Regions from separate parts of the Homo sapiens genome. Here region 2 is linked to region 1. Evidence: fine-mapped expression QTL. A gene starts in region 1. The other region holds a variant in brackets. All regions are shown on one strand. Distances are from middle to middle.

What was found. PIP is the estimated chance that this variant, and not a neighbour inherited with it, causes the effect. A credible set is the group of variants that fine-mapping cannot tell apart.
Region 2: its variant is the best candidate, but not a certain one, in a credible set for the expression of GFM1 in transverse colon (GTEx, PIP 0.69).

The regions. Positions count from the first base shown.
Region 1 is chr3:158,634,974-158,649,538 of GRCh38, forward strand. GFM1 (G elongation factor mitochondrial 1) reads left to right here and starts at 9,554. Exons shown (of 18, transcript NM_024996.7): 1 at 9,554-9,742; 2 at 10,656-10,808; 3 at 11,192-11,324; 4 at 11,770-11,974; 5 at 14,068-14,184. The coding sequence starts at 9,662.
Region 2 is chr3:158,923,139-158,937,859 of GRCh38, forward strand. LOC124909452 (a long non-coding RNA gene) reads left to right here and starts at 804. Exons shown (of 2, transcript XR_007096143.1): 1 at 804-1,251; 2 at 1,937-12,222. RefSeq lists enhancers at 13,166-13,747, 13,307-14,506. The variant G/A (reference allele first, on the strand shown) is at 8,286.

The sequences.
Region 1 (14,565 bases):
GCTTAGGTAAACAAAGCAGCGGGGAAGCTCGAACTGGGTGGAGCCCACCACAGCTCAAGGAGGCCTGCCTGCCTCTGTAGGCTCCACCTCTGGGGGCAGGGCACAGACAAACAAAAAGACAGCAGTAACCTCTGCAGACTTAAATGTCCCTGTCTGACAGCTTTGAAGAGAGCAGTGGTTCTCCCAGCACACAGCTGGAGATCTGAGAACGGGCAGACTACCTCCTCAAGTGGGTCCCTGACCCCTGACCCCCGAGCAGCCTAACTGGGAGGCACCCCCCAGCAGGGGCACACTGACACCTCACACGTCAGGGTATTCCAACAGACCTGCAGCTGAGGGTCCTGTCTGTTAGAAGGAAAACTAACAAACAGAAAGGACATCCACACCGAAAACCCATCTGTACATCACCATCATCAAAGACCAAAAGTAGATAAAACCACAAAGATGGGGAAAAAACAGAACAGAAAAACTGGAAACTCTAAAACGCACAGCGCCTCTCCTCCTCCAAAGGAACGCAGTTCCTCACCAGCAACGGAACAAAGCTGGATGGAGAATGACTTTGACGAGCTGAGAGAAGAAGGTTTCAGACGATCAAATTACTCTGAGCTACGGGAGGACATTCAAACCAAAGGCAAAGAAGTTGAAAACTTTGAAAAAAATTTAGAAGAATATATAACTAGAATAACCAATACAGAGAAGTGCTTAAAGGAGCTGATGGAGCTGAAAACCAAGGCTCGAGAACTACGTGAAGAATGCAGAAGCCTCAGGAGCCGATGCGATCAACTGGAAGAAAGGGTATCAGCAATGGAAGATGAAATGAATGAAATGAAGCGAGAAGGGAAGTTTAGAGAAAAAAGAATAAAAAGAAATGAGCAAAGCCTACAAGAAATATGGGACTATGTGAAAAGACCAAATCTACGTCTGATTGGTGTACCTGAAAGTGATGCGGAGAATGGAACCAAGCTGGAAAACACTCTGCAGGATATTATCCAGGAGAACTTCCCCAATCTAGCAAGGCAGGCCAACGTTCAGATTCAGGAAATACAGAGAACGCCACAAAGATACTCCTCGAGAAGAGCAACTCCAAGACACATAATTGTCAGATTCACCAAAGTTGAAATGAAGGAAAAAATGTTAAGGGCAGCCAGAGAGAAAGGTCGGGTTACCCTTAAAGGGAAGCCCATCAGACTAACAGCGGATCTCTCGGCAGAAACCCTACAAGCCAGAAGAGAGTGGGGGCCAATATTCAACATTCTTAAAGAAAAGAATTTTCAACCCAGAATTTCATATCCAGCCAAACTAAGCTTCATAAGTGAAGGAGAAATAAAATACTTTACAGACAAGCAAATGCTGAGAGATTTTGTCACCACCAGGCCTGCCCTAAAAGAGCTCCTGAAGGAAGCGCTAAAGATGGAAAGGAACAACCGGTACCAGCCGCTGCAAAATCATGCCAAAATGTAAAGACCATCGAGACTAGGAAGAAACTGCATCAACTAACGAGCAAAATCACCAGCTAACATCATAATGACAGGATCAAATTCACACATAACAATATTAACTTTAAATGTAAATGGACTAAATTCTCCAATTAAAAGACACAGACTGGCAAGTTGGATAAAGAGTCAAGACCCATCAGTGTGCTGTATTCAGGAAACCCATCTCACATGAGGAGACACACATAGGCTGAAAATAAAAGGATGGAGGAAGATCTACCAAGCAAATGGAAAACAAAAAAAGGCAGGGGTTTCAATCCTAGTCTCTGATAAAACAGACTTTAAACCAACAAAGATCAAAAGAGACAAAGAAGGCCATTACATAATGGTAAAGGGATCAATTCAACAAGAGGAGCTAACTATCCTAAATATATATGCACCCAATACAGGAGCACCCAGATTCATAAAGCAAGTCCTGAGTGACCTACAAAGAGACTCAGACTCCCACACATTAATAATGGGAGACTTTAACACCCCACTGTCAACATTAGACAGATCAACGAGACAGAAAGTCAACAAGGATACCCAGGAATTGAACTCAGCTCTGCACCAAGCAGACCTAATAGACATCTACAGAACTCTCCACCCCAAATCAACAGAATATACGTTTTTTTCAGCACCACACCACACCTATTCCAAAATTGACCACACAGTTGGAAGTAAAGCTCTCCTCAGCAAATGTAAAAGAACAGAAATTATAACAAACTATCTCTCAGACCACAGTGCAATCAAACTAGAACTCAGGATTAAGAATCTCACTCAAAGCCGCTCAACTACATGGAAACTGAACAACCTGCTCCTGAATGACTACTGGGTACATAACGAAATGAAGACAGAAATAAAGATGTTCTTTGAAACCAACGAGAACAAAGACACAACATACCAGAATCTCTGGGACGCATTCAAAGCAGTGTGTAGAGGGAAATTTCTAGCACTAAATGCCCACAAGAGAAAGCAGGAAAGATCCAAAATTGACACCCTAACATCACAATTAAAAGAACTAGAAAAGCAAGAGCAAACACATTCAAAAGCTAGCAGAAGGCAAGAAATAACTAAAATCAGAGCAGAACTGAAGGAAATAGAGACACAAAAAACCCTTCAAAAAATCAATGAATCCAGGAGCTGGTTTTTTGAAAGGATCAACAAAATTGATAGACCGCTAGCAAGACTAATAAAGAAAAAAAGAGAGGAGAATCAAATAGACACAATAAAAAATGATAAAGGGGATATCACCACTGATCCCACAGAAATACAAACTACCATCAGAGAATACTACAAACACCTCTACGCAAATAAACTAGAAAATCTAGAAGAAATGGATACATTCCTTGACACATACACTCTCCCAAGACTAAACCAGGAAGAAGTTGAATCTCTGAATAGACCAATAACAGGAGCTGAAATTGCGGCAATAATCAATAGTTTACCAACCAAAAAGAGTCCAGGACCAGATGGATTCACAGCCGAATTCTACCAGAGGTACAAGGAGGAACTGGTACCATTCCTTCTGAAACTATTCCAATCAATAGAAAAAGAGGGAATCCTCCCTAACTCATTTTATGAGGCCAGCATCATTCTGATACCAAAGCCGGGCAGAGACACAACCAAAAAAGAGAATTTTAGACCAATATCCTTGATGAACATTGATGCAAAAATCCTCAATAAAATACTGGCAAACCAAATCCAGCAGCACATCAAAAAGCTTATCCACCATGATCAAGTGGGCTTCATCCCTGGGATGCAAGGCTGGTTCAATATACGCAAATCAATAAATGTAATCCAGCATATAAACAGAGCCAAAGACAAAAACCACATGATTATCTCAATAGATGCAGAAAAAGCCTTTGACAAAATTCAACAACCCTTCATGCTAAAAACTCTCAATAAATTAGGTATTGATGGGACGTATTTCAAAATAATAAGAGCTATCTATGACAAACCCACAGCCAATATCATACTGAATGGGCAAAAACTGGAAGCATTCCCTTTGAAAACTGGCACAAGACAGGGATGCCCTCTCTCACCGCTCCTATTCAACATAGTGTTGGACGTTCTGGCCAGGGCAATCAGGCAGGAGAAGGAAATAAAGGGTATTCAATTAGGAAAAGAGGAAGTCAAATTGTCCCTGTTTGCAGACGACATGATTGTTTATCTAGAAAACCCCATTGTCTCAGCCCAAAATCTCCTTAAGCTGATAAGCAACTTCAGCAAAGTCTCAGGATACAAAATCAATGTACAAAAATCACAAGCATTCTTATACACCAACAACAGACAAACAGAGAGCCAAATCATGAGTGAACTCCCATTCACAATTGCTTCAAAGAGAATAAAATACCTAGGAATCCAACTTACAAGGGATGTGAAGGACCTCTTCAAGGAGAACTACAAACCACTGCTCAAGGAAATAAAAGAGGATACAAACAAATGGAAGAACATTCCATGCTCATGGGTAGGAAGAATCAATATCATGAAAATGGCCATACTGCCCAAGGTAATTTACAGATTCAGTGCCATCCCCATCAAGCTACCAATGACTTTCTTCACAGAATTGGAAAAAACTACTTTAAAGTTCATATGGAACCAAAAAAGAGCCCGCATCGCCAAGTCAATCCTAAGCCAAAAGAACAAAGCTGGAGGCATCACACTACCTGACTTCAAACTATACTACAAGGCTACAGTAACCAAAACAGCATGGTACTGGTACCAAAACAGAGATATAGATCAATGGAACAGAACAGAGCCCTCAGAAATAACGCCGCATACCTACAACTATCTGATCTTTGACAAACCTGAGAAAAACAAGCAATGGGGAAAGGATTCCCTATTTAATAAATGGTGTTGGGAAAACTGGCTAGCCATATGTAGAAAGCTGAAACTGGATCCCTTCCTTACACCTTATACAAAAATCAATTCAAGATGGATTAAAGATTTAAACGTTAGACCTAAAACCATAAAAACCCTAGAAGAAAACCTAGGCATTACCATTCAGGACATAGGCGTGGGCAAGGACTTCATGTCCAAAACACCAAAAGCAATGGCAACAAAAGCCAAAATTGACAAATGGGACCTAATTAAACTAAAGAGCTTCTGCACAGCAAAAGAAACTACCATCAGAGTGAACAGGCAACCTACAACATGGGAGAAAATTTTCGCAACCTACTCATCTGACAAAGGGCTAATATCCAGAATCTACAATGAACTCAAACAAATTTACAAGAAAAAAACAAACAACCCCATCAAAAAGTGGGCGAAGGACATGAACAGACACTTCTCAAAAGAAGACATTTATGCAGCCAAAAAATACATGAAAAAATGCTCATCATCACTGGCCATCAGAGAAATGCAAATCAAAACCACTATGAGATACCATCTCACACCAGTTAGAATGGCAGTCATTAAAAAGTCAGGAAACAACAGGTGCTGGAAAGGATGTGGAGAAATAGGAACACTTTTACACTGTTGGTGGGACTGTAAACTAGTTCAACCATTGTGGAAGTCAGTGTGGCGATTCCTCAGGTATCTAGAACTAGAAATACCATTTGACCCAGCCATCCCATTACTGGGTATATACCCAAATGACTATAAATCATGCTGCTATAAAGACACATGCACACGTATGTTTATTGCGGCATTATTCACAATAGCAAAGACTTGGAACCAACCCAAATGTCCAACAATGATAGACTGGATTAAGAAAATGTGGCACATATACACCATGGAATACTATGCAACCATAAAAAATGATGAGTTCATGTCCTTTGTAGGGACATGGATGAAATTGGAAACCATCATTCTCAGTAAACTATCGCAAGAACAAAAAACCAAACACCGCATATTCTCACTCATAGGTGGGAATTGAACAATGAGATCACATGGTCACAGGAAGGGGAATATCACACTCTGGGGACTGTGGTGGGGTGGGGGGAGGGGGGAGGGGTAGCATTGGGAGATATACCTAATGCTAGATGACGAGTTAGTGGGTGCAGCGCACCAGCATGGCACATGTATACATATGTAACTAACCTGCACAATGTGCACATGTACCCTAAAACTTAAAGTATAATTAAAAAAAAAAAAAGAAATCTGTGGAATGACTCTCATAACTCAGAAACTCTGGCCAGTGATCCACCTTTAAAAAGCTATCTCATTTCTGTGTATAAGAAGGTGTGTGTGCTCTGTGTGCATCTCCTCACGGAGCTGTGTGAACAGATGTGAGTTAAGGGCACGTACTTTAATGTGGTTGATAATTTTAATCACATCCTGCAAAACGTTAAGTTCATTTGATACTTTCTGGCTAGCTAGCATTTCTCTATGGACGACTCAGTGTGTAGACTCACATTCAGAAGCAACCTCTTTGACCCGAATAGTGAAACCAGAAAGCTGTCCAGTCATGGCAGCTGCTCTGTCGGTCCATAAACTGACACAAAATAACCAATTCAGTTTTGCTATGTAATCATTCAAAGACTTGACTAGTTCTGCCGCTGTGGTGTTGGTTGGCAACAAAAGTGCACATAACATATCCTCATGCACATCCACCTGAAAAATCACACAAAAACAAGCATTGTTGACTTGTTGTCAACCTCAGTAAATTAATCAACCTGGATTTTGTACCAGAGTGACCCATTAATCCTTTCTTTTCTTTTTTTTTTTTGAGATTGAGTCTCGATCTGTCACCCAAGCTGGAGTGCAGTGGCATGATCTTGGCTCACTGCAACCTCCGCCTCACGGGTTCAAGTGATTCTCCTGCCTCAGCCTCCTGAGTAGCTGGGATTACAGGCGCATGCCACCATGCCTGGCAGATTTTTGTATTTTTAGTAGAGATGGGGTTTTACCATGTTGGTCAGGCTGGTCTTGAACTCCTGACCTTGTGATGCGCCCGCCTCGGCCTCCCAAAGTGCTGGGATTATAGGCATGAGCCACTGCACCCAGCCCCATTAATCCTTTCTAGTAATTGTGCCTCGATATCCTCTGCTATTTCATCATTTCCTCTAATTATGGTGCTAGCCCAAAGAGGCACACGTGCCACCTTTTGAACTGCAGCATCTCCTAAAAGTTCATGACAAATGTCCTTAGCAGCAGGCAGGTTCAATTCTCCAGTAGTAAAGAGCTTCTTAGCTTAGCAATGCTGTTAGCCACTAAGAATGACACTGTCAATGCAGACACATTTGATGGAAGTGGCGGCCTTCAATAATTGCTTCTGTTCTTCGTGTCCACATTTTTTCTTTTGAAAAACTCCAAAGGCTTCTCTTTTTATGTAGGGTGCTTGGTCTCCATGTGGCGAAGCAGTTTTGAAGGTTTCATGGGTTTGTTGGATAGCCGCTTGCCACATATTATATAAAGCAGGCTTGGAGAATGTGAATCACCTGTTGCAGTGAACCTGCAATTTAAGTAGGACTCTAGGTATTTTCTTTCACATGCAGCTTTCCTTTTATTAGCAGTCTTAGAGTTTTCCATTTTCTCATCATTGGGTCTTTCCCCATTTTCAAAGAAGCTCTCCAGTGACATTTGTTTTTTACTCGTTTTGGCTAGAGTTAGGTTGTGGGCTTACCAAAACTGTGACTGAGGCAAGTGCTCAGTGTGGGAAGGAAGCGCGGACGGAAGTGGTAAATAAAATAATGGGCGGGCCACGCAAGACTTTAAAGCCTGCCATCAGATGCAACTGTACAACTGAAATACATCAACTCACTTGCCACTATAAAGCTTGCCACCAGTGCAGCTTTTGTCACTTGACACTCACTGACAGGGTTTTGATATGAATCTGCAAGCAATTGATTTATTATGGTCTCTGTGCAGTCAAACCTCTTTGCTAATGTTAATCTGTATTTGCAGCTGTTCCCCAGCCCTAGCGGCCACACCTTAGCTCCACCTCAGGTCATCAGGCATTAGATTCTCATAAGGAGTGCGTAACCCAGATCCCTTGAATGGATAGTTCACAAGGGGGTTCACACTCCCATGAGAATCTAATGCCACTGCTAATCTGACAGGAGGCAGAGCTCAGGTGGTAATACAAGTGATAAGGAGAGGGTGTAAATACAGATGAAACTTCACTCGCTCGCCCACTGCTTACCTCCTACTGTGTGGCCTGGTTCCTAACAGGCCATGGACTGATACTGGTCTCTGGCCCAGAGGTTGGGGACTCCTGTGTTAGAACATGTAGATGCCAAGTACCTGTGCCAACCACAGGTCCACCTTTGCATACTTGACCTTACCAGTATTTTATGAATATATATGTACAGCTCCCATGTTACCAGTGAAGGGTCTTGACTATGAGTCATACAGGTTCTTGGCGTTTGAACAAAGAATTGGACAAAACACATAAGCAAAGCAATGAAAGAATGGAGCAATGAAGGCACAGATGTGTTGAAACAAAAGTACACTCCACAGCTCAAGAGCACCTGTTACAGAATTTTCTGGGATTTAAATACCCTCTAGAGCGTTCCCATTGGTTACACCCTATGTAAATGAAGGAGTGGCCCATAACCAGCCTGCTTGGTTGCAGGAGGTGACCAATCAGAGGCTGAAGTGAAGTTACAAAGTTACACATGAGGACTTGGCCTGCTACCAGTCTGATTATTTGCCAGAGGGGACCAGTCAGAGGTACTTTCCATTTTTTCATCTGCAATGCAGTGCATTGGGAGTAGCCTCCGATCCTTTTGTTACTTGGGCATGGAGAGGTGGGGTTTTCCTTTTGGTTCAGCTCTAGGAAGTCAGCAGGGCCTTCGGTTCCCTGTCTCTAGACCCTGTTCTCCTGCCTCACCCATAAAGGGAATTCCCTAGAGATACTAAAGGCTGTCTGTCTCTCTTCTGAGCAGCCCACTCTGCCTCTCAGAGTGTACTTTTGGTTTACAATAAACTTTTTTGCCTACTCTTACTTTGTACTTGCTTTCAAATTCTTTTGTGTGGTGAAGTCAAGCACCTGAACCGGCCCACTGACAACAGCAAGGATAGAAGCAGTGAGATCGGTTACAAGGCTATTACAATAGTTCCCTCCAGAAACGGCAGTACTGAGAGGTGGGGAGAAGTAAGTTCTGGATTTTCTTTTTTTTTTTTTTTTTTTGAGACTCGCTCTGTCACCCAGGGTGGAGTGCAGTGGCGTGATCTCGGCTCACTGCAAGCTCCGCCTCCTGGGTTCACACCATTCTCCTGCCTCAGCCTCCCGAGTAGCTGGGACTACAGGCGCCCGCCACCGCGCCCGGCTAATTTTTTTTTGTATTTTTAGTAGAGACGGGGTTTCACTGTGTTAGCCAGGATGGTCTCCATCTCATGACCTCGTGATCTGCCCGCCTCGGCCTTCCAAAGTGCTGGGACTACAGGTGTGAGCCACCGCGTCCGGCCCTGGATGTCTTTTTGAAAGTAGAGCTTACAGGATATGCTGACTGATTAGACCGGAGATGTCACAGCATGGTGTCAAAGCGACTAATATTTTTGGCTAGAATCACTAAAGTTTACATTTATGAGATGGATAAGACTGTGGAAGGTTTGGGGAAGAAGATCCGAAGCTCAGTTTTGGACCTGTTAGGTTCAACATGCCTCTTAACACATCCAAGCAGAATGGTCAAGGATGCAGTCTTCCACATGGACAGGACATGAAATGTCTGACATCGAACAATAACAAATAACATTTTGACATGAGGAAAAGTATTTGTAATTGTAATTGATAGTTCATTCACTATAATTTGTCCACGTTCTTTTTCAGGCCATGTCATATATATACCTATTAATATTTGTAATAGACAATTTTGCTCTTTTCTACTTAAATTGTTATATACATTTCTCCACATTGCTTTATAGGCCTAACAACCATGTTTAAATTCTGTATCTTCATACAGAGGTAATATTTAAAAAAGAAGACGAAGACAAAAGGACTCCCTTCCCTCACCCATATACCTATGCCGTCTTACTGGGAGCAAACACTTCTTTAGCTCCGCAAAGCGATTGCACTTTCTCTTCCAAGTCGGCAGACGGCGCGCGAGCAGCGTAGGCACTGCTCCGCCTCCAATCCAGTTGCTCTTCTTTCTTTTCCTCACTCTCTTTTTCCTCGCGTCCTTTGCCCCGGAAGTGCTCTTACAACATTGGCTGCCGGCGTGACTTTGACCGCTTCCCGGTGCGTTACCGGCAGCTGAACCCACCCGGCGCCACGGGACTTTGACGCGTGCTCTGCGCTTGCCATGAGACTCCTGGGAGCTGCAGCCGTCGCGGCTCTGGGGCGCGGAAGGGCCCCCGCCTCCCTAGGCTGGCAGAGGAAGCAGGTACCGGAGCATAGAGAGGCTAAATCGGGACCATTCCCGGAACCTTGTGATCCCTTCTGGGCAATGGAAGGCCGTGACACCCCCTGGGTCCTCATGACTGACAGCTCCGAATACTGGCAGTCGCTCGTCAGTGCTGAAAAGCACCTCGGTGCCTGCACATTAGCTCGTTAGCTCGTTTGTTTCGCTCTCTGGTATCCCTAGGGTTTAATCAACTAAAAGTGTCTGTCACTCAGATACTTTGATATTTTATCCACCTTTTCTAAGGTTTTTTTTTTTTTTTTTTGCCTCTCTTTTCCCGTGAATAATTGTGCATTTTGGATGTGCAGTCCTATAGGGAAAGGTTTATATTGTATCTTCATTCCATCTAATAGGGATCCCCATCCCCTGCCACCAGAGTAAAGTTAAAACAAGCTTCATGAATTGTTTTTGTTTGGAGGGAATTGGAAATCTTTGGGGGCTGTCTTGGAGCTACTAGCATCACTGCATAGAGCATATAAGTTCTCAAACATATTTGTCATCTGTGAACTACAATAAAGGAGAAAGGGAAAAAAATTAAGTTAAATTTAAGCTAAAATTTGTATTTTCTATTAAAGTATTTTTTGGAGCTGTCTTTGTGATTTTATCTGCCCCAGTGTGTATTTTCAAATCTGCAGTAAAAAGTGTCTCCCATTTTAATTAAATTTAACTTATTCATTAATTAATTTTAAAAGAATACGTCTTTACTGTCTTGTTTTGAAGTCTGTCCTCTGATTACAAGAGTTCCAGGCTTAAAGGTTTCCCCTGGTGCCTTTCTCAAGCTATCTCATATCCAGTGAGATTTCTTGGAGGAATAATGTCCACCATACTCCTTTTAATTGTCTGTTGTTCTCTCTTATAAAAGGTGCATAGAATTGAGCTCTCGTATTTTTTTCAGGTTAATTGGAAGGCCTGCCGATGGTCTTCATCAGGGGTGATTCCTAATGAAAAAATACGAAATATTGGAATCTCAGCTCACATTGATTCTGGGAAAACTACATTAACAGAACGAGTCCTTTACTACACTGGCAGAATTGCAAAGATGCATGAGGTATATATTCACGGTTGATTCCGGATTAATTAGAACCAGATTTTAATTGTTTTGTTGCTATTATTTAATAAAGCTTATAAACCTGAAAGATTAAAACAATGGTAACAGCGGACTTTTGACAGTTAGGCTTATCTGAAAGTTGCTTAAGTTAAGTATCTGTGTTCTGGTTTTATTTTTATTTTTTATAGAAGAGGTCTCACTTTGTTGCTCAGGCTGGTCTCAAACTCTTGGGCTCAAATTATCATCCTGCCTCAGTCTCCCACAGTGCTGGGATTATAGGCATGAGCCACTGCACCTGGCAACTGTTTCCATTTCAGTTAAGATTTCTTTCCTTCTTGGAATGCAGGGACAGAGAAAGTCTGAATTGCTGTGCTTGTGTTTAGGTGAAAGGTAAAGATGGAGTTGGTGCTGTCATGGATTCCATGGAACTAGAGAGACAAAGAGGAATCACTATTCAGTCAGCAGCCACTTACACCATGTGGAAAGATGTCAATATTAACATTATAGATACTCCTGGTGAGTTGGATTCTTGGTTTTATTGCAGCTTCTTTGGCAAAAGCACATTTGGTTCTTTCTCTTACTGTGACCCAATTAGTTTTTGATTGTCAAATACTCAAAAGTGTAACACTGAATTCCTATTAAAGAAGACTAACTTAGGACCTAGAGCACTTCATCCTTATGTAGTTTTCTTGAAAATTTGTGCAAGTAAATTGTGAGTAGGCAGATTCTTGCCTTTTACATATTCTAGCTGATTCTAAAGGTGCCTGTGCCCTAGTATTTTCTTGAAGTGATCTTGCCAGGCCCTGCACCTAAGGGTTGGTGAATAGTATTGGTGAGCTCAGGAATCTACATTCTTATTAGAAGACTTATGTGATGAGCAGAGATACAAAAACTTCTAATAGTGCATATATTAAAAATTCAGATTGCTCTTTAAGACCCTCTCATACTTCATCTTATTCAGGGCATGTGGACTTCACAATAGAAGTGGAAAGGGCCCTGAGAGTGTTGGATGGTGCAGTCCTTGTTCTCTGTGCTGTTGGAGGGGTACAGTGCCAGACCATGACTGTCAATCGTCAGATGAAGCGCTACAACGTTCCGTTTCTAACTTTTATTAACAAATTGGACCGAATGGGCTCCAACCCAGCCAGGGCCCTGCAGCAAATGAGGTAATGAGCCTTAGAATAAACAAAGAGGATGTGATGATCTAGACAGCAAACCTTATATCCAAAAGGGTGATTAATTCACTGTCATTAAACTTTATTCTTAAATTTAGTTTTTTAAATATATTTATGTGAGTTAGTAAGTGGAACACTGATTTTAGTAAATTGGCTTGTGGTATGATCTCATCAACTACCTTATCTCTAAAATGGGGACAATATTACTTAAATTCTAGGGAGGTTGAAGATGAATTCAGAAAACAGTCTGACCGTTTATACTGTTTTGCTATTATGAGAGAAGTTATAATCTAGATTCTAAAAATACCTTGTGTTTTATTTAGACAAAAGATCATCTTTGGTTTTAATTTTTCCTTGAAGCATTTTAATTAATGCCCTTAAGTAGTTTGCCATAGAGATGAGATTTTCTTGTTTTCAGACGGAAACATATTTTCTAGGACAACAGTAACACTTCCTTTCTGTACCAGATAGAACCAGTAGTATTTATAGCATTTTAAATTTTACACAATATTATATATTTCACAAAGCCTTTAAAAAGAGTCAGAATTTCACTTTTCACCTTTTGTAGATGTGCACGTGTAGCTGTAGAGCTCATACTTACGTTTCACATGGCATAGTTGATGGATATGTAGGTGTAAAGTTTATGGTAGTGGACAGGCTGAGAATGGTGTATCTGATGACAAAAAATCTGATGGAAGTGATATATTTGATATGAAAGTGAACATTTTCTTAGTTGGGTGTTTATAACTTTTTTTTGGTAAATTGTTTTTAGTTTTTATCCTTATTTTACTTATGCTTGGCAATAGATGGTCTTTTTTCCCCAAATCTTCTTCTGAATTCCAAGGAAACACTGTTTTAGCATTTATTTGATTACTTTGGTTCATTCTTTTCTCCACTCCCATTTATTTGTTTTCCATTTTGTAACTTCTATAAAGCAGATAAAAATCTGGAACTTCTAGATCTGACCTTCATGCCTTGTCTTTTCTATGGTACTTATTCTTTCTGTCTCCTTCTCATTTTGGATTGGGCTTATGAGAGAAATCTTGGGGTTGATCTTCCAGCTCACTAATTTGATATTCATTTGTGTCTCTTCAGTTACTTAGCTTGCCTGAAAACTTTTTTTTTCAGCAATTGTGTACTTAATTTTCATAAACTTTCTCTTTCCTTGCAACATTTTTATCAGTAGAGGTAATTGTTTCTCAAATCTTTACATTTTATTTTCTTTCCTCTAGTAACTCTCTTCTTGGAGGTAAGTGCTATTAAGTTCACATTTCTCTTTCAAGCTTTTGGTTTCCTTCAAATATTTGGTGATTCTTAGATCTTTAACCATAGTTATAGATGGGAGTCTAGAGTCTAGACTAAACAGTGGTAGCTAGAGCATATTCTTTTCCAGTGAGGATTCTTGCCAGTGAATGCAGTTTCTATTCAGTTTTGAGCCTGGGCCGGGCGCGGTGGCTCACACCTGTAATCCCAGCACTTTGGGAGGCCGAGGCGGGTGGATCACCAGGTCAGGAGTTCAAGACCAGCCTGGTCAACATAGTGAAACCCCATCTCTACTAAAAATACAAAAAATTAGCCAGGCGTGGTGGCGGGCACCTGTAGTCCCAGCTACTCGGGAGGCTGAGGCAGGAGAATTGCTTGAAGCCGGGAGGCGGAGGTTGCAGTGAGCGGAAATCACACCATCACACTTCAGCCTTGGCAACAGGGCGAGACTCTTGTCTCAAAAAAAAAAAAAAAAAAAAAAAGAGGTGGGCTCAGCTATCCTACTATTTAATTTCCTGGCTAGCCCTCCATTATCTGTTCTTCCCCCTTCTGCTTTTGATCCAGTGTATCTGGGGATCTGATGGTAAAACAGTTATTCTGGAGTTCTTTTTGTTGCCTAAATGGGTTTGTGGCTTCCTGAGCTCCTTGAGTTACGTTGTCAGTCTGTTCCCAGCTGCTTTATATTTTCTGTTCTGACCTGATGGTAACACCCTTCTCAGTTCTCCAGTGTCTGCCACTGATTTTTTAAAATATTCATTTTGTCATTTCAAAGGGATTAGGGGAGAAGAAAAAAGGTAAACAAGTGTATTTTTATTTTTCAGGTCTAAACTAAATCATAATGCAGCGTTTATGCAGATACCCATGGGTTTGGAGGGTAATTTTAAAGGTATTGTAGATCTTATTGAGGAACGAGCCATCTATTTTGATGGAGACTTTGGGTAAGTGCTAAAAATACATTATTAAAATTTTAAATTTTAAAAAGCATTAAAAAGAAGGAAAGGATAAGTTCATCAAACGCAGAGTAACTATCTTTTTGAAATGCGACTGCAAGAATACTCTGAGATGGTTTTGTTTTAATACCTTTAATCCTAGTCGCTCCCCATTTTATTTAGTATTTATTCTGTGAGAGACTATGTTACTTTTTGGGTAATATACCCATATCACATTATGGCATGCATGGTGTGGTAGAAGGAGGCCTTCAGTTTGGGTTAGTAAATTTGGGTTAGTGAATGTATTGTATCTTTTTGCACTTGTTCATTTATTCATTCATTCTGTGGACTTTTATAGAGCAGCTGCCAGGTCTGGGGTATTGTGATAAA
Region 2 (14,721 bases), 290 kb after region 1:
AAAAATAGTACCTGTTAGGAATTTGGAATTATTGAATGTGCAGATTAATTTGAAGAGAACTGACATCTTTACAATATTTAGTATTCTAATCAATGAAAATGATATATTCTATTTCAATGATGGCAAACTTAGTAGAGTCAGACTGTAAATATTTTAGAATTTGAGGATTATATACAGTTGCTGTTGCATATTCTTATTCTTTCTTTTTGTTTTATAGCCCTTTAAAAATGTAAAAACCGTTTTTAGCTCACAGGCAGGAAAAAAAACAGGCTGTAGGCTGCAGTTTGCCAATCCCTGCTTTATTTATTTAGTTTTTATTTACTATATCTAATAATGTTTTATAGTTTTCTGGGGAGAGTTTTTGCATTTAAAATACTACAGTTAAGTAGGAAGTCAATTATATTATTTTTAAAGATACCTTTTACCAGATTAAACAAGAGCCCTTCTATTTCTACTTTGCTAAGAGTTTTTACATAAACACCATGGAATACTATGCAACCATAAAGAGGAATGAGATCATGTCCTTTGCTGGGACATGGAGGAGCTAGAAACCATTATCCTGAGCAAACTAACACAGGAACTTATAAGTGGGATGCTGTTCTCACTTATAAGTGGGAGCTGAACAACACACACTGGGGCGTGTGTGTGTGTGTGCACGCGTGCATGCGTGTGGGCTGGGGAGGGGTCTGGGGAGAGGGAGAACATTAGGATAAACAGGTAATGCATGTGGGCCTTAATACCTGGGTGATGGGTTGATAGGTGCAGCAAACCACAGTGGCACACATTTACCTATGTAACAAACCTGTGCGTCTTGCACATGTACCCTGGAACTTAAAATAACATTAAATTTTTTAAAAAAGTTTTTTAAATTATTAATGACTGTTAACATTTATCAAATGCTTCTTCTGAATCAATTAAGATGATCATGATTTTTTTCTCTTACTAGTTAATGTGGTTAATTATAATTTTCAAATGTTAAACCAACCTCGCAGTCCTAGAGTAAACCCCATTTGGTAATTGTGTAGTATCGTTTAATATCTATATCTATATTGCTGTTTTCTTGTATATATTTTCATGAGAGAGATTGGCCTGTAGTCTTGAAATGTCTTTGTCATGTTTTGATAGAGAGGTTATGCTGACCTCTTTTCTATTGTCTTTTTGTATTGTCTGAAACAATTTGTATTTTGAGTGAGGTCATCTTCGTCTCTCAAGACCAGCCCAGTTGCCAGCTGAATACCACTGAATGAACAAGTAAGTACAGTTGGCCCTCAGTATCTGTTGGCTCCACACCTATGGGTTCAACCAATTTCAGATCAAAAATACTTTTTAAAAATTCTGCAAAATTCCAAAAAGCAAAGCTTTAATTTTCTGTGTGCCTTGTGCTATGTTGAATCCATGTGAAGTGATATGCAAGCATTGTATTAGGTATTATAAATAATATAAATATAGGTTATGTGCAAATACTACACCATTTTATACAAGAGACATATAAAATCAGAGAATTCTCAGATGTTGGTATCTGTGAGGGATCCTAGAGCCAATCCCCCATGGATACCAAGAGATGATCATATATACATAGTGATACTACCATTGGTTAACTGTGGGACTATGAGAAAGTCACTTCTGAGACTCAGCTTCATCATCCATAAAATGCTACAGTTGAATCTTTAGGTAAAGTCTAGCTTTAATGGCCTGTGATTCCCTTTCGTTCTCTATTTCTTGGAATGTGCCGTGAAGATTGTGCTTTGCAAAGTGCTTTGAGCTGTTTTTCCTCACTCCTACAAGATGGCGATTCTAATGCTCTCAAGCATTTGTTTTGAAATTTATATTGAATTATTAATAAAGTATCCTCTGTGGAGAATAAGTTGAATATAGTAGGGAACTCAAGACATATGAAGATCTCAACTAGGAAATATCTGTCCTTTTCACTTGGTAGCCAAACTGTCACTGGAGATGAAGAGAGGGCCTTGGCCACTGTGCCAGGTGTGCCTGCTACAGTTCTTGGAAAACAGAGGCTGCTCAGTAGAGGAGGGTGATATATCTTCCTGACAAAGCTCCTGCCAGGAGACGATGTGCATAACTCAGCCCTGAGCCTTTCTATGAGCTCTGCCAAATCCGACAGACAGGTAACAAAACACTGAAAAAAAAGTAATGTCAGCCCAGCCTGGCGAGTGCCAACACCGCTCCCTTAATTACTCTACCTAGTGACAAAAGCTATTCATCAAACTCGAAATAAAGTGGTTTTAAAGTCAGAAATTTATGTGCCAGCCAGTGAGAGGCTGTAATTTTGGGGGCATTGGTTTAAAGCAACATAAAGCAAGATGAAAACAAATTGGAGAGCCAGGTAACTTTTCATTTACACAATGGCACCATCAGGTTTGTCTTTGGTTCTTTCTGATTTTCTCACCATGTCTTTCTCCCCACATTCTAGCCAAATAAAACTTTTGATCCAGGCCAAGATCCCATCCTGAAGCCAAAAGGAAGATTAATTCATTCTTGATTTACTTATTAAACATTTGTTGTATTAAATAAGTAGAGTGAAAAGAAGGCCGAGTAATCCTGGAGGAATTTATTTATTCAACAAGCATTGACTACCTACAATGTGCCAGACATCAACAAAAGGGCTAGGAAAATGGTGGTAAACAAGACAGCAAAGAAATGTTTTCTTATGGAGCTCACATATGTATACAGAAGAAAACGTAAATACATAAGAAGATGTGGATAGTGATAAATGAGAATGATGGGGGGTGGGCAGGGAAACACAAGAAGAGGCATGTGGAAATGTAAGCACTAGAGCAGCGGTCTACTTAGTGCATCTGGTGAATGGAAAATGGGCCAGTGTGGCTGGTGTGGGAAAGAGTGGAAATAGACAAGGTCGGAGAGGTTGACAGGGCCAGATCAAGAAGGGCCTTTGAGCCAGAATGAGGAGTGAGGATTTCATTCCAAGTACAGCATAAGCCAATGGAGAGTTTTAAGCACAGTGATCATGTGACCAACACTTATTGAAAGTGAAGGATTTGAAAGGGTTTTTGCAAAAGAAGTCATTATCTAATTCAAGATTTATTGAGCTTAAACAATTATTGAACCTTTGTTATGTGCCAGGTGCTGACGACAGAAAGATGAATAAGATGCTGACTCTGTCCTCGAGGTACATACAATCCAGTGGAGACACACAGTCTTGTGCATGAATAAGAACAACATGGCAATAATGAGCAACAGTGCCTTTGTGGGGCAAAGTCATGTGGTGCCACTTCCATCTGTTTTATTAACAAACAGAACATGGTCTCTTAAAAGAGGCTTTTCTGGATGTGCTTTTTGTTTTTTTAAGTGCTGAAAGGTATGTACTACATTCCAGAAGATAAATATGCCCCTAGTTTGGCTCTCCCAGAGGAAGTGTGAGCATTCTAAGAAGAGGCACAATGGAACCAAACGTCTCAAGACTTGTGTTCTCTTCCCTACATGGTTGGGAGACACTGAAATGAGAGCAGGTGTTTTTGGGAATCCAGTCTTCATTTTCTTCATCAGTAAAAGAGGGTTAAAATATTTGCTCTATAAAGTCCCCTCTAGCTGTCTCATTCTGAAACCCAAGGGAAGCTTTGTCTGGATCATTCATTTATAGGCTACATTTTTGCCTTAGTAATAGGGAATACTAACTTTGAACCCCAATAAAGCAAAATGTTATCCCCCAAGGAGAATTATAGTCTTCCCATTAGTAGATGTATATTGCAAAACTTGTACTTAATTATGATTATTTAAAATTTTTGAATATTTGTAAAAATTTTATAGAATTTTAAAAATGCTTTTGAATTTTAACAACTTGTAGAATATTTTTTTCTCTCTTGTCTAGCTAGGTACCTATATTATATCCTTGATTTTGTCTCATGTCCTGAAAAGCCTAAAATGTGGATCTTTATCAAAAAAGAATGCCAAATCTTGTTTTAAAACTGGAATGCTGTGGAACACAATGTTTCCCAGAGAGAAATCCCTGAAATTCTATTCCCACTGATCTTCAATGCAGAAGAGGTACCATGGTCAAATGAAGGCCCTGACAATTCCTGAAGTAATAACAAATTCACGACCACAATCAAATGAACGTGCAAATCCATTTCACTGTGTTTAACTGAATGTTTTTCAATATCTGTGAAGACAGACTGTTCATTGGAAAACAATCCTCAAAATGCACATTGGGCCCTGGCCGTGAGCTGGGTTCTGTCTGGCACACTCCTGTGTTCTCTAGGCATGTACTTTTATTCAAAGCCTCCAGCTGCAATGGTAGGGAAGTCTATGTTTGTTTCAAGTTATAGTCTTTCCCCTTTGCTGGACCATCTTGGCTGCAAACTGGGAGCCACACATGCCGAAACAATACATTTTCCTCCAAATCCTGGAACTGTTCCTTCCTAAAGTCCCATGCCTGGATGCCAGTGGAAGCAGTCTGGCCTCAGATTGAGGAGATCTGAATCTACAGACAATGTAAGACATTGAAGTTGCTTTTCCTTATAGAGGTGAGGGGTTTGAGTCATGTCACTTACATTCTCTTGCTTGGTTTCCCCTGTGACTCTAAGAACATTGTGCAGCACACTGTTTCCCCCTCAGTTTCCTTGTGGGACATCTGAACCCAATGCATGCAGGGGCTGAACTCTGTGAAGCTCTCACTGGGTTCAGATGAGCAGGGCTTGTGCCCTAACTCCTCTCCCTCTCCAAGCACTACCATTCCAATAATAACTGCTATCTCTTTTGAACTTTGTGAACCACCTGAGCAGGCTATGACACTAGCCTTTAGCAGTGGCCAGAGTGATTCACATGGCACCTGCAGGGCCAAACTCATTGAGGGACATTGTTAGACAGTGTTCAACAACTGAGGCATAGATAACAGTTGAATGAGTGAACAAATGCCATTCAGCCCCAGAGAGTTGCCTCCTGGTAGGCAGGGACTTGTGCAGTGTGAGGATTCCAGACTGCTGTCTGTGCAAGGGATACTATGTAGAGAGGAGGCAGGGCAGGAAAATTGAACAAGCATAGGTTTGAGTCCCAGACCCGCCAAGCAGCCAAATATCACCTTAATCAAGTTTTAAAACTATTCCTGGGGATGAGTTTTCTTCTGGAATACCTACCTTGCTAGATTCTTGTGATAATGAAGGCTTCATAAGGGAACTTATGTGACAACTATGAAGGATCTGACACATGGTAAGAACTCAACGGATTACAGTGATGATAAAGCAGTTATTAGGGTTGAAGGCCTCATCAGCCATCACCCCGTCGACTCCCTATATTCAAGATGAGGTGACTTAATCAATATGCCAGTCAGTGGGGGAACCCAGGTTTCCTCAGTCCTAGTTTAGTGCTCTGTTACACATTTCTGCCTTCAATTATACATTAATTTCTGAAAGAAAAATTGCAGTTCTAACCTTGAATATCCCTGTAAATTCTGGCTTTGCATTGAAACCCGAAGGATGGGTACCTGGCCTCCAGTGTTTGTGGGCTGCTCAATGGGACTTTTTAACCACAAAGCTGAGAACATTGCCTTCTAGAAAGAGGGCATCTCTCTTGCTGACACTCACAGGTTGCCAGGCTGGGACTTGGGAACACCAGGCTCACAAATGCCCCATACATGTGAGCAGTTGGCTAGTCTATGTCTCATGCCTTGAGGAAGGTGAAAGATCCTCGAGCCATTGTATTGCTGTCTCACCACACACCTGGCTGGAGCTAGACTTCTGGGGCTTGGCTGAAGTTTTGAAGGAACCACCTGAGGTGACTCAGGTAAGTAGCAACAAGGCAGGGAGGAGAGAAGCAGAGGCAGCAGAAGGGAAGAGAAGGACAAAGGCACTCGTAATAGGCTGGAGCAGGCAATGGTTTTCTTCCTCAAGAAAACAATATACACCATGTCTAGATTCCTTGCCAGACTAGCCTATAAAAATTGCATTAAACACATAAGCCTTATGAGCTATAATACTCGTGAACTGTTAGAGTTACCGAAGTTTCTGTGAACTAGACTGAGTACCTCCTCACTTAGCATTTTCATAGTCTTATTATTAATTACTTTATTATAAAAATATCAAAGTATACTGAAGAGTATAAAATAAGTCTTTTCCCTTACTCTGTCCCCAAACTGATCCAACTTCTAGAGTTTTCTGTTGATAGTTTCTTATATATCTTGCAGATATTTTCTCTATATACGTAACTGTAGTAGGTATAAAGTCCACAAACATCACTCAGAAAGTGACATTTGAAGTGTCACTGGAGGAGGACAGGAAGTGAGCCATGTAGCTATAGGGGCTGGGGAATTCCAAAAAGAGTGAACAGCAAGTGCTGAGCCCCTGGATGAGAGTGGTGGGCTTGAGGAGTGGCAAACAGGCCCTGAGGCTGGAGTGCAGGGAGGAAGGAGGAGATGTGTGGGTTGAGCTGGAGAACCCACAGGGCTCCGTCGGTCAGGGTAGGGGCTTGGGCTTTAACTGAGTAAAATGAACATCTGTGAGCAGAAGCACACCATGATCTGACTTATTTTTAATAGCAGGGAGAATCATTTGGAAGCTATTGTATAATCATCCAGGTGAGGGATGATGGTAGCAAGAATCTTGATGGTAGTGGAGTGTAAAAATAATTGGATGCTGGATATATTTTCACGGTACAGCTAATGTGATTTGTTGTTGGATTGGTTGTGGAGTGTGAGAGGATGAGAGGAATGCAGGGCAACTTCTAGATTTGGTTGCTGAATAGCCAGAATAACATGGTGGCAAATTCATGGTGGGGCCAGTATTCCAAACCAAGCCTACTGGGCGCGGGTTCTCTACTTCCTGCTCTATACAGTCTTGCCTCCTGGGCACCACACAACCTTCCACAACACTGTGCTGTGGTAAAAGTTTGCACTCCAAGGCAAAGAACAAAATGTCAGAATATTGCCTTCCATTGAGTTGGAACCTTTTTAGATCAAATCAGTCATAGTGTCTGAAAGGGTGTTCTTTTGGTCATTTCTGATATTTAAAAGATGCTTACTAGAATCCAGGTGATTCATCTCTAGAATTCTGGACTCACTTGTTGGGAATGATTGAACTGGACCATTACTCCAGAAAGTCTTATATTTCTGTTTTTGGTGACTACACTCTCTGTGTGAGAGTTTTGCTGTGTTTTTTGTTCATCCATCACTTTCTGTGCCTTATAATGAAAACAGTGAAGACAAATGTGCTATTTATAATTTTCTTCCTGGAGTCATTTCAATTAAAAATTAATTAAATGTCTTCACATCATAATTTTAAAGTATTCTATCAGCAATGGTGAGACAACATAAAAGCTGTAAGAATCCCCAAGTCTAAAATAAACTTATGCAAATACCTTTTCAAAATGCCACTGTGTGCATAGACAGCATTACTTAAACATGGTTAGTACTTTTATGTCTTTATTAATTTTATTAAAGTATAGAAAGGAAGACTTGGGATTAAGGGGTATTCAGGGAAGACATTTGCAAAGTGTTAGAGTATAGCATGGTAGGGGCTGTTGAGGTTTCTTTGCTTTAGAACCACTGGTTCTCACATTTTGGTGCCTACCAGGAAACACTTGAACTGGTAAAGTGCATGAAGGCCTGGGTTCACTGAAGTAGGATATGGACTGGGTCTTTCATATTTTTGTTTGGTTCCCTGGGTGATTTTGAATACCCATGAAAATGTGAGAGCTACTGCTTTAGAGGACCACACTTCCTTAGTATTTTGAGTCAGTGATTCTGGATTCTGAACATGACACACCAGGAGGTAAAATCTGTTCTGCTCAATGCTTTGGGTGCCTTAGGTGTGATATCCAACTCCCGCCTTCCAGGAATATGATGTCTGAAAATGGCTGAAGTCAGCAGGGGTCCCAAACATTTCATACCTAGAAACACCTAGGTATGACACTCTTTCCTTAGAAACTGAGCTGTGGAATTCTGGAGTTCCATTGATAAGACCGCAAATGTGTGGATTTGCAGGTGACATATTGGTTTGCACCAAAGCAATTCTCTTATTTCTCTGCCAAATGCATCTTTCCCTATAGGGGCCCCCAAGTCTATTTTTCTGCCAAGAAACCCACGGTGGTTATAAGTGAGGGAAGGGAAGGCTGTGTGGACTAACTCCAACGTTAGAGATGAAGTCCTCCCTAATGAAAGGCAGCAGGAGATACAAATCTAAAGTCAGGGGAGACAGGGTTACTGCAGGATTTAGACTATTTTAATTCCACATTTTATTTCCATTGTGGGAGAGAAAGACATCCTTGAACTTCCCAATAATAGTAACTGTTAAAAAGTGCTAAGTATTGTCCCAAAA[G/A]CATTCTGGACAATATTTTAATTATCCTCATAAACTCAACTGAAGATTCAGTATTATGCTCATTTCACAGAAGAGGAAATGGAGGTACAGAGAACCTGCCCAAGGCCATGCCAGCCTGTTACGGGAGCTAAGACCCAAACCCAGGCTGACTGGTTGCAAAGTATATAATTTTAACCATTATGCTCTGCTGTCTTTCAACCTAGCAGGATTTATGCCCCTCTACCCCACTCCATTATGCAGGCCTAGGAATCATAAATGGGAGTGATACAGAGAGACGAATACTCCAAGGCAGCCCTTCAGACAATTGAGGTGTCTGGTGTCAGGCAAGACAACTGGGGGCTCCTGGGAGCCCTCCCTTGTCTGAGAAACAAGGTCCAGGGTGGGATGAGGGTGGGGGTGGGGGCATGCAGGGAGGTGGTCAGCTGGAACACAGTGGCACAGCTGAACTTGTTCCTTATAGGTGGCATCCATTGTGACTGGGCAGTGCCTGCAGCATACCAGTCCTTGAATGTTCTGTATGTCACTCCTGGGTGTATGTTCTTCTCCCTGAGAACCATTGTTGGCTTGAAGATAGGCCCCTGAATTATCATGGACCTTCTTCTAGGACAGAAGAGAGAGGCCAGTTGTTCAGTGGGCCGTCAAGTGCTGCTGACAAGTGGCAAGCTGTGAGCTACTGGGAAGCCTTGAGTTGTGGAGTGGGAATGGTGGAGGGTAGAGGTGGTTCAGTGGATAGGATGAACACCATGATCCCCAGGGCAAGATTTCTAAAACTTGAGTAATATAAGGATCCCTTCTAAGGGAAAAATATTACAGCATATCTCCAGTATAAAATTTATTCTTATTATAGTATTACTACTTAAGGCTCAAACGAAACATTAATTATAAATCTTTATCTTTATGAATTATAAAACTAAATTTAACAAAAACATATGCAAATGACAATAACAATAAAATTCAAGTTAGTAGTACTGATTTAATGTGATAGATGCTGTTGCTTTGCTGAAACAGCCACACCTTGCAATACATCGATGGCGTTGGCACTACAGGCTCTTTGGATGCAGGACCTCCACTTCACATGTGATAGGATGACTCGGTTAACCTTGTACAGTTTTCTACTGCAAGACCTTTGTTTGTCTGTGAAGTCCTTTGGCTCCCATCATATGCAAAAATGTTATTGATGAGTTATGTCGATCTCTGAAGAACTCCTTGGTGCCAATGTGATTGTGATACAAACTTGGGTACAATGTTGTATGATGGTTATAAGTGGGTGATTATATAGATAATAAATAATGGGCCTATTTAGATTTTTTTAGATTGATTTGGGATTATGTTCCACTGGGAATTAAGCTCTTATAAGAGCAGGGGCTTTGTTTTGCTCTCTGCTGTATTCTCAGTGCTGAGCACAGTACCTAGAACAGCTCTGCCCAATAGACATAGAATCCAACCATAGGTAGGAGTCACATATGCAATTTAGAATTTTCTAGTAGCCACATTTCAAACAGTGAAAGAACAGGTGGAATCAACTTTAATATATTTTATTTAGCCCAATATATTCAAAATACTATCATTTTTATGTGTAATCAATATTCAAATTATTGAGATATTTTACATTTTTCTAAGTTTCCAAAATTTGGTATGAATTTTACATTTAAAGCATGCTCAAATAAGGCTAGCCACCTTTCAAGTGCTCAATCATCACATGTGGCTAGTGGCTACTGTATTGAACAATATAGATATAAAAGATAATAGGTGCTAAATAAACTTTAAAAAATATTGCTGTATGAAGGATAAAAAGAACTTTCAGGTCCTCAAACCTTCAATCATTCTGGTTTCAGTGATTCTGATGCTGTCTCTCATATTATAGTGGGGAAGCAGCAAAAGAAGTGATTCTAAACCTCTTCTCACTTGAATAAATGCAGTGGCATCCTCCTACCCAGTCTCCTTGCATGCAGCCTTGCTCCTTTGTAATCATTGCTACCCAGGACAGCTAGACTGCCTTTTCCTAAAATGCAAAGCTTAAGTCCCTCCCTCATTCAAAAACCCTCCAGTGGCTTCTCTTCAACATTAAAATAAAGTCCAGTTTCCTTAGCATGGATTGGAAGGCCTGTGATGATCGGGCCCTTATATTCTCTTCTGCTCTCCTTAAAGTCTCTGCCCCATCCAGACTGGATTTATTCCTGTTTTTTTTTTCACATGCTGCGTCATGTGCCTGCAACATTCCTTTCTGCTCCTCATTCCTTGGCTAACTCCTCCATATCCATCAAGTACAGGTTAAAATGTCACTTCTAGGAAGCCCCCCCTGACCCCATGGACTGTGTAGCTCTCCGATTCTTGCTGCTGTGTACTGCCCTAGTTAAATATTCCTCACTCGCACATCCCACATCAGAACCCTCTTTTCAGGAACTGTGCCTCCTACTTTTTGGGAACTGGGATAACTAAGGAGAAAGACAAAGGCTGACTTGGATTGTAGAGGACTGGTAGATTTTATTATCACAAAGTGTGGCAGAAGTCTTGGGAGAAAGGAAATGGACATTTTCTACCTAGTTAAAAATGTTATGCTGGCCAGGCGTGGTGGCTCACGCTTGTAATCCCAGCACTTTGGGAGGCTGAGGCGGGCGGATCACGAGGTCAGGAGATCGAGACCATCCTGGCCAACACGGTGAAACCCTGTCTCTACTAAAAGTACAAAAAAATTAGTCAGGCGTGGTGGTGGGCGCCTGTAGTCCCAGCTACTCGGGAGGCTGAGGCAGGAGAATGGCGTGAACCCTGGAGGTGGAGCTTGCAGTGAGTCGAGATCATGCCACTGCACTCCAGCCTGGGTGACAGAGCAAGACTGTCTTAAAAAAAAAAAAAAGTTATGCTAAGGCTTAAGTAAATTGCAGAAATCCCATTCTTCCTATCACCATGTGGACCAGGGAATTATTCCAGTTAAGGTCAGCTGGCCCCTGTGTCTTTTTTCAATTGGGAGATGTGAGTTTTGGAAAACTTGTGGCTCCTCTGTCCTTGAGTATTGAGGGTTCCTCCTAGGTCCTCCCCCTCATCAATTAAAATGACTCACATAGCAATGATATTTAGCATACATATCAACTAGAACAGTGGTTCTGAACCAGAGGAACATCTCAAAATCACCAGGGAGTTTTGCTAAAATACAGCTGTTACATATCTGCTCTCCCCTACTCCCCCTCTAGGCCCATGAATCAGAATCTCTCAGGATGGGGGCCAGCAATATGTACTATGTGTGGGCTTCTCAGTCAACTGATATTTCATCTCTGGTTAAGAATTATTGAGCCAGGGTAAGAGAAGAGCAAAGTAGTCTAAAACCAGAGGCTTTGCAGATTATGATGGGTGGTTTCTTAAGGCAATGTAGATGGCTGGGGGTAATATTTCCTATTCTAGGAGCACAGTCTGGAAGAACTATTAGTGTGGGAATGGATAGCTGGTATTGAAAGGCAAGAGAATTCTGAACCCAACTGATCAGGCTTTATTTGTTCCTTGTGCAACTCATAATCTTAAGTTTTTATTATTGCACAGCTGCCAATTTGATTTTTCAATGCAAATAAAAGTCTGATGTGTTATGACACTTTGCATTTGTTCACTGTATCTATTAAAGGATGAAATAGTTTATTAAAAATTGTTCTCAAACCACATTCAAACACCTGTTGATAAGGACAAGTTAGCAGAGTATAATGTGATATTTCATCATCTATTGGCCGTGGGGCTTTAGAGGTGAGGTTTAAAAGTAGCACCAGTATATTTGGGATGTGGGGATTGAGGGAGACATAGTGTTGCCCACCATAATATTTTACATTTTTTCAACACATACTTAGTGAGGGCATGTGATGTGCCAGATCTGGTTTCTAGCCGTGGAAACAAAGACCCAAATCCATGCCTTCACAGAGCTTACATTTTAATGGAAAAAAAATAAATGAATAAATAAGTTATATAGTATTATAGATGTGGTAATTACTATGGAGAAAAAGCCTAAAAGGAGGATAGGCGTTATTGTGTGTGGAGTGGGAATGGACAGGAGAGTGGTGGTGACATTTGAGCACAGACCTAGAGGAGAAAAGGGATGAACCATGCGGGTGTCTGGGAGTAAAGTGTTCCAGATGGAACAGTAAGTGCAAAGGCCCTGAGACAGGAGAATATTTGGAATGTCTGAGCGGGAAGAGCATGGTAGGAGATGAGGTTGGGGAGGTAATAAGGGGCCTGGGTGGCTACAGCAAGGTGGTCAGCTTTTACTCTGAGATGACCAATCATTGCCAACTTTTGATCTAAGATGTAAGAGACATAATTTTAAAAGGATCATTTGGATGATGGATGGAAACTGCACTCTCCAGGGACAGTGGTGAGGCAGGAAGACCCTTTAGGAAGCTGTTGCAATATCCTAGAAGTGGCTGGGACCTAGGTCACAGAGGTGAAGGTAGTGAAGAGGAGGGCAGATTCTCAATACATTTTACAGGTAGAGCTAGGAGGATTTGCTGAATGCAGGGTGTCTGAAAGAAAGTGAAGGATGAGGCAGATTCCTGGCCTGAGCAACTGGAGGGGCGGGGTGGCAGTTCACTGAGGTGGGCAAGATCATCGGGAGGCAGGATGTGGGCAATGCCTGGAAGTTCAGGAATTTGGTTCAGACCAGTTTACAAAAGTGAGTCGTCGTTTGGTTGGTTGCAGCACTCAAATTGCTGCTATGCAGAGTTGCTGATTCTAAAGTCTTAGTGCATCATTAAGCCTTCTAAGAAGAGGCACAATGGAACCACACGTCTCAAGACTTATGTTCTCTTCCCTACATGGCTGGGAGACACTGAAATGAGAGCAGATGTTTTTGGGAATCCAGGCTTCATTTTCTTCATCAGTAAAAGAGGGTTAAAATATTTGCTCTATAAAGTCCCCTCTAGCTGTATCATTCTGAAACCCAAGGGAAGCTTTGTCTGGATCATTCATTTATAGGCTACATTTTTGCCTTAGTAATAGGGAAGACTTTGGACCCCAATAAAGCAAAATGTTATCCTCCAAGAAGAATTCTAATCTTCTCATTAGATATGTATTGCAAAACTTGTACTTAATTATGATTATATTTAAAATTTAGAGAAAACATTATGAAAGACTTTTTAAGAAATTAGATCAGGGCAGAAAATTTTGGAGAATCTTTTTTCCTGCTAGAAAATGACCAACAAAAGTTGTCACTTGATCTGAGTTAGTGAGGTGGCAGGAAGCATTAACACTCGGAGGAGGGCACGAATCCGGTGTGCAGACTCCACAGGCAGGGGACAAACCAAGTCCTTTTCTTTCGCAGCTGGAAGGCGGGTAGCCTAGGCAAGTTCTCAAGCCCGCTCGCCCTCCACCTGGAAACAGACTTGGGGCTTTTGGCGGGGCTCGGTGAGAGTGAGACCGGCCCTTTGGTTTGCATGACAGCTGGGTGAGGCCTGTGACTGCCGGCTTTCCCCCACTTCCCTGAAAACCTGGATGACTCAGCAGAGGCAGCCATAATCCTCCTAGGAACTTAACTCCATTAACCTGGGAACCTCACTCCCATCCCCCACGGCAGCTGCAGCAAGACCTGCTCAAGGAGAGTCTGAGCTCAGACATGCCTAGCCCTGCCCCCACCTAATGGTCCTTCCCTACCCACCCTGGTAGCTGAAGACAAAGGGCATATACTTTTAGAAGTTCTAGGGCCCTGCCCACTGCCTCTTCCTCCCCATACTACCACAGCTGATGCTGTCTTGAAAGAGCCACCTCCCTGGCAGAAGGCCAACCAGCACGAAAATAGTGCATTAATCAACCAAAGCTAAGGACCCTCACAGAGTCCATTTCACACCCCTGCCACCTCCATTGGAGTGGGTGCCAGTATCCAAGACTGAGAGACCCACAGATGGTTCACATCACAGGACTCTGTGCAGACAACCTCCAGTACCAGTCTGGAGCCTGGTAGATTTGCTGGGTGGCTAGATCCAGAAAAGAGATTAACAACCACGACAGCTAGACAGTTCAGCTCTCAGGTAGCCACATCCCTAGGAAAAGGGGGAGAGTACTACATCAAAGAAATACCTCATGGGACAGAAGAACTGAACAACAGCCTTGAGCCCTAGACTGTCCCCCTGATAGCCTACCCAAATGAGAAGGAACCAGAAAACCAACTCTGGTAACATGACAAAACAAGGTTCTTTAACATCCCCAAAAAAATCACACTAGCTCTCCAGCAATGGATCCAAACCAAGAAGAAACCCCTGATCTAACTGAAACAGAATTCAGAAGGTTTGTTATTAAGCCAATCAGGGAGGCACCAGAGAAAGGTGAAACCCAATGTAAGGAAATTAAAAAAAAATGATATAAGAAGTGAAGGGAGGAATATTCAATGAAATAGCATAAATAATGAAAACTTCAGGAAACAATGGATGCACTTATAGAAATGCAAAATGCTCTGGAAAGTCTCAGTAAT